2 separate regions of the Homo sapiens genome follow, and region 1 is linked to region 2. Evidence: fine-mapped expression QTL. Tissue or cell type: whole blood. Region 2 holds a variant in brackets; the other region holds the start of a gene. All regions are shown on one strand. Distances are from middle to middle.

Evidence for each region. PIP is the estimated chance that this variant, and not a neighbour inherited with it, causes the effect. A credible set is the group of variants that fine-mapping cannot tell apart.
Region 1: it holds the start of SEMA6A-AS1, and the variant in region 2 is the best candidate, but not a certain one, in a credible set for the expression of SEMA6A-AS1 in whole blood (INTERVAL, PIP 0.56).

The regions. Positions count from the first base shown.
Region 1 is chr5:116,446,424-116,449,220 of GRCh38, reverse strand. SEMA6A-AS1 (SEMA6A antisense RNA 1) reads right to left here and starts at 1,723. Exons shown (of 3, transcript NR_109879.1): 1 at 1,430-1,723. SEMA6A (semaphorin 6A) reads left to right here. Exons shown (of 19, transcript NM_020796.5): 19 at 1,410-2,797. The coding sequence ends at 2,608.
Region 2 is chr5:116,310,295-116,313,115 of GRCh38, reverse strand. No RefSeq gene overlaps it. Among named protein-coding and RNA genes, the nearest start is that of MIR12130, 56 kb to the right of the region's middle. The variant C/T (reference allele first, on the strand shown) is at 1,416.

The DNA.
Region 1 (2,797 bases), 140 kb before region 2:
CTCCAGAGGCAGGAATTGAGGTATTAGAGATTTTATTTTTTAGCGACTGCATCAAGCACTTAAGATCTGACAACTGTGATGTGTATTCTCACTTGGTATTAAAAAATAAAAGCTTCTGTGTTTGCATTTGATTAGAGTCACTCAGCTGGGTGGCTGATTAAGCAGGAATAGCGAAAGCACCTTCCTTCAGAAACACTGAATCCTGGTTAATGTAGTGTAAGATTACGGATGGGTGTAGTCACATAATTTTTATTAAATTGAAGAGATTAGCTCTGCTGAAAAATCCCACTGTGACAGCAAACTCTAGGTGCAATAATGGTACCTAACACTTCTCAAACCCACTACAGGGCCCCAAATGGTCTTATTTCTGAATCTTCTTTCAGTTCCAGTGAGAAAGCTTCATTCAAATATTCAGGATAGTTACCTGAAATTGAGTTTGCACTGTTTTTTTTTTTTTTTTTTTTTGAGAGGTGATGCAAAATCAGCACAAACATTTGTAGTCTGTGAACTTTAGCTATATTCTCTCAGTGTAAATAAAAATGACACACACTCTCTTTCCTCTAGTTGCTTAAAAGGCAAACACTTTTCCCCAGACGGAGGCTCCGGTGGCCACAAGGGGGCCGTCGGAAAAGATCCCAACTGGAAGCCCAGAGTGTGTGATTTGTTTGTCTAACATGCATAAAATTGTTGCCTCTTCCTCCAGACTCAGGATAACTTGGTTATCCCAGTTCTAGGAAGGGAAGGTTAAAAAGCCATAAAGAAGGAAAGAAAGATAACTTTTGAAAGCCAAAACCTCCCATATTCCCTGGAGTGAAGCAGAGTAGAAAGTGCAGGTACTGGAAAGAGTGAACAGCACTTTTCTTTCTTTCTTTTTTTGAAACGGAGTCTCGCTCTGTCACCCAGGCTGGAGTACAGTGGCCTGATCTCCCTTCACTGCAACCTCCACCTCCCAGGTTCAAACAATTCTCTACCTCAGCCTCCGGAGTACCTAGGATCACAAGCCCCCGCCACCGCGCCTGGCTAATTTTTTTTTTTTTTTTTTTTTTTTTTAGTAGAGACGGGGGTTTCACCATCTTGGCCAGGCTGGTCTTCAACTCCTGACCTCGTGATCCACCCGCCTCGGCCTCCCAAAGTGCTGGGATTACAGGCGTGAGTCACCGTGCCCGGCCTGAACAGCACTTTTTTAGACAACAAAGAAGGCTACAAATGGAGTCCATTTACATACTGCACACGAGGGGCTTGGGGAGGATTAATTGGTTAATGTTTGGCAAGCTGAGCTTGGAAGACAAGTTGTGCAGAGGTGCTGTTGTCACTTACTACTGTTATTAATTAACAAGGTGAATGCCAAGCAAAAACAAGCCTCGGGGTGTGCTTTCATTTCTTAACGCCATATGCGATGTCTATTGCAGGAGTGATTCGGGAAAGTTACCTCAAAGGCCACGACCAGCTGGTTCCCGTCACCCTCTTGGCCATTGCAGTCATCCTGGCTTTCGTCATGGGGGCCGTCTTCTCGGGCATCACCGTCTACTGCGTCTGTGATCATCGGCGCAAAGACGTGGCTGTGGTGCAGCGCAAGGAGAAGGAGCTCACCCACTCGCGCCGGGGCTCCATGAGCAGCGTCACCAAGCTCAGCGGCCTCTTTGGGGACACTCAATCCAAAGACCCAAAGCCGGAGGCCATCCTCACGCCACTCATGCACAACGGCAAGCTCGCCACTCCCGGCAACACGGCCAAGATGCTCATTAAAGCAGACCAGCACCACCTGGACCTGACGGCCCTCCCCACCCCAGAGTCAACCCCAACGCTGCAGCAGAAGCGGAAGCCCAGCCGCGGCAGCCGCGAGTGGGAGAGGAACCAGAACCTCATCAATGCCTGCACAAAGGACATGCCCCCCATGGGCTCCCCTGTGATTCCCACGGACCTGCCCCTGCGGGCCTCCCCCAGCCACATCCCCAGCGTGGTGGTCCTGCCCATCACGCAGCAGGGCTACCAGCATGAGTACGTGGACCAGCCCAAAATGAGCGAGGTGGCCCAGATGGCGCTGGAGGACCAGGCCGCCACACTGGAGTATAAGACCATCAAGGAACATCTCAGCAGCAAGAGTCCCAACCATGGGGTGAACCTTGTGGAGAACCTGGACAGCCTGCCCCCCAAAGTTCCACAGCGGGAGGCCTCCCTGGGTCCCCCGGGAGCCTCCCTGTCTCAGACCGGTCTAAGCAAGCGGCTGGAAATGCACCACTCCTCTTCCTACGGGGTTGACTATAAGAGGAGCTACCCCACGAACTCGCTCACGAGAAGCCACCAGGCCACCACTCTCAAAAGAAACAACACTAACTCCTCCAATTCCTCTCACCTCTCCAGAAACCAGAGCTTTGGCAGGGGAGACAACCCGCCGCCCGCCCCGCAGAGGGTGGACTCCATCCAGGTGCACAGCTCCCAGCCATCTGGCCAGGCCGTGACTGTCTCGAGGCAGCCCAGCCTCAACGCCTACAACTCACTGACAAGGTCGGGGCTGAAGCGTACGCCCTCGCTAAAGCCGGACGTACCCCCCAAACCATCCTTTGCTCCCCTTTCCACATCCATGAAGCCCAATGATGCGTGTACATAATCCCAGGGGGAGGGGGTCAGGTGTCGAACCAGCAGGCAAGGCGAGGTGCCCGCTCAGCTCAGCAAGGTTCTCAACTGCCTCGAGTACCCACCAGACCAAGAAGGCCTGCGGCAGAGCCGAGGACGCTGGGTCCTCCTCTCTGGGACACAGGGGTACTCACGAAAACTGGGCCGCGTGGTTTGGTGAAGG
Region 2 (2,821 bases):
AAAATAGATGATATCTTAGGTCATAAAACAAGTCTGAGAACATTTTTAAAAAAACAGAGGTCATATCAGTAATCTTTTCTGAACATAATGAAATCAAACTAGAAATCAATAACAAAAGGAACCTCGGAGAATACATGAATACATGGAAATTAAACAAAATGCCCCCAAATTACGAATGGATCAATAAAGAAATTATGAAGAAAATCAAAAGTTTCTTAAAACACATGAAAATGGAAATACAAAATACCAAAATCTGTGAGATCCAGCAAAAGCAGTCCTAAGAGGGAAGTTCACAGTGATAAATGGCTGTATCATAAAAGCAGAAAGAGGCCAAGCACGGTGGCTCATGCCTGTAAATTCCAGTGCTTTGGGAGGACAAGGCAGGTGGATTGCTTGAGCCCAAAAATTTGAGACCAGCCTGGGCAATATGGCAAAACCCCATATCTACAAAAAATATAAAAAATTAGCTGGGCATGGTAGGGCACACCTGTCGTCCCAGCTACTCAGGAGGCTGGGATGGGAGAATCATTTGAGCCTGGGAAGTTGAGGCTGCAGTGAGTTGTGATCATGCCACTGCACTCCACTCTGGGCAAAAAAACAAGAACAAAAACAAGGCAGAAATACTTCAATAAACATTATAATAATGAATCTTCAGAAACTAGAAAAGCAAGAACAAACCACATTCAAAATCAGTAGAAGAAATAAAGAAGATCAGAGCAGAAATAAATGCAATAGAAATTTAAAAATACAGAAGATCAAAAAAATAAAAAGATGGATTTTTAAAAAGATAAACAAAATAGACAAATTTTACCCAGACTAAGAAAAAATGAGAGAAGATACAAATAAATAAAATCAGAAACTAAAATGGAGACATAATAATTGAGGCCTCAGAAACAGAAAGAAGGCTGGGCACGGTGGCTCATGCCTATAATCTCAGCACTTTGGGAGGTCGAGGTGGGTGGATCACCTGAGGTCAGGAGTTTGAGACAAGCCTGGTCAACATGTTGAAATCCCATCCCTACTAAAAAAAAAAAAAATTAGCTGGGCGTGGTGGTGGGCCCCTGCAGGCCCAGGTACTTGGGAGGGAGGCTGAGGCAGGAGAATCACTTGAACCCAAGAGGCAGAGGCTGCAGTGAGCTAAGATCAAGCCACTGCACTCCAGCCTGGGTGGAGAGTAAGACTCCATCTCAAAAAAAAAAAAAAAAAAAAAAAAGAAATGGAATCATTAGAAACAGTTATGAACAACTACATGCCAACAAATTGGAAAACCTAGAAGATGGATATACTACTCAACATATACAAACTACCAAGACTGAACCATTAAGGAATGTAAAATCTCAGCAAACCAATAATGAGTAATAAGATCAAAGCCATAGTAAAAAGTCTTTATTAAAGAAAGGCCCAGGACTTAACAG[C/T]TTCATTGCTGAATTCTACCAAACATTTAAAGAAGAACCAATACTAATTCTATTAAAGTCTTAAAAAAAAAAAAAAAAACTGAAGAGAAGGGAATACTTGCAAACTCATTCTATGAAAACCAGACAAGGACACAATGATAAAAGAACACTACATGCCCATATAACTGAAAAACACAGATGTAAAAATTCTCAATGAAATACTGCCTGTCCAAATTCAACAACACATTAAAAAGATTATTCGCCATGATCAAGTATGATGAATATCAGGGATGCAAGCATGGTTCAGCATACACAAATGCAGAAACATGATATATCACATGAACAGAATCAAGAATAAAAATCCAAAAATTGGTATGGAGCCACAAGAGACCTCGAATAGCCAAAACAATCCTGAGCAAGAGAACAACAAAGCTGGAAGGAGACATCATACTACTTGATATCAAAATGTACCACATTTTGTAACCAAAACAGCATGGTATTGGCATAAAAACAGACACATAGACCAATGGAAAAGAATAGAGAGCCCAGATATATATCCATTCATCTACAGCCAACTCATCTCTGACAAATTATTTTAATAGATGCTTGAAAAGCATTTAATAATTTAAAACCCCTCATCAAAATGGGTACAGAAAACATACCTCAAATATCAAAGGCCATATGTGACAAACCCATGGCCAACATCATACAAAACAGGGAAAAATTAAAAGCCTCTCCTCTAAGGACTAGAACAAGAGAAGTACATTCATTAACCTAAAGACTCCACTAGAAAACTGTTAGAGCTGAAAAACAAATTCAGTACAGTTGCAGGATACAAAATCAACATGTAAAAGTCAGTAGCATTTATATATGCCAAAAGCTAACAATCTGAAAAAGAAATGAAGAATGTAATCCCATTTACAATAGTTACAAAAAATATAAAATATCTTCAAGTCAATTTAACCAAAGAAGTGAAAGATTTATATGAGGAAAACTGTAAAACTCCAATGAAAGAAACTGAAGAAGACAAATAAAAGGAAAGATATCCTATGTTCATGGACTGGAAGAATGAGTATTGTTGAAATGGCAATACTACCCAAAGCCATTTACAGATTCTATACAATACCTATTAAAATACCAATGACATTTTTCACAGAAACAGAAAAAAGAATCCAAAAATTGGTATGGAGCCACAAGAGACCTCAAATAGCCAAAACAATCCTCAGCAAGAGAACAAAGCTGGAAAACAAAATAGGAAAAGGACATCTCTTCAGTAAATGATGCTGAGAAAACTGAATAACTAGGTGCAGAAGAATCAAACTGGACCCTATCTCTCACTATACATAAAAATAAAATCAAAACGGATAAAGGTATAAATCTAAGACCTGAAATTATAAAACTACTGTAAGAAAACATAGGGGAAGTGC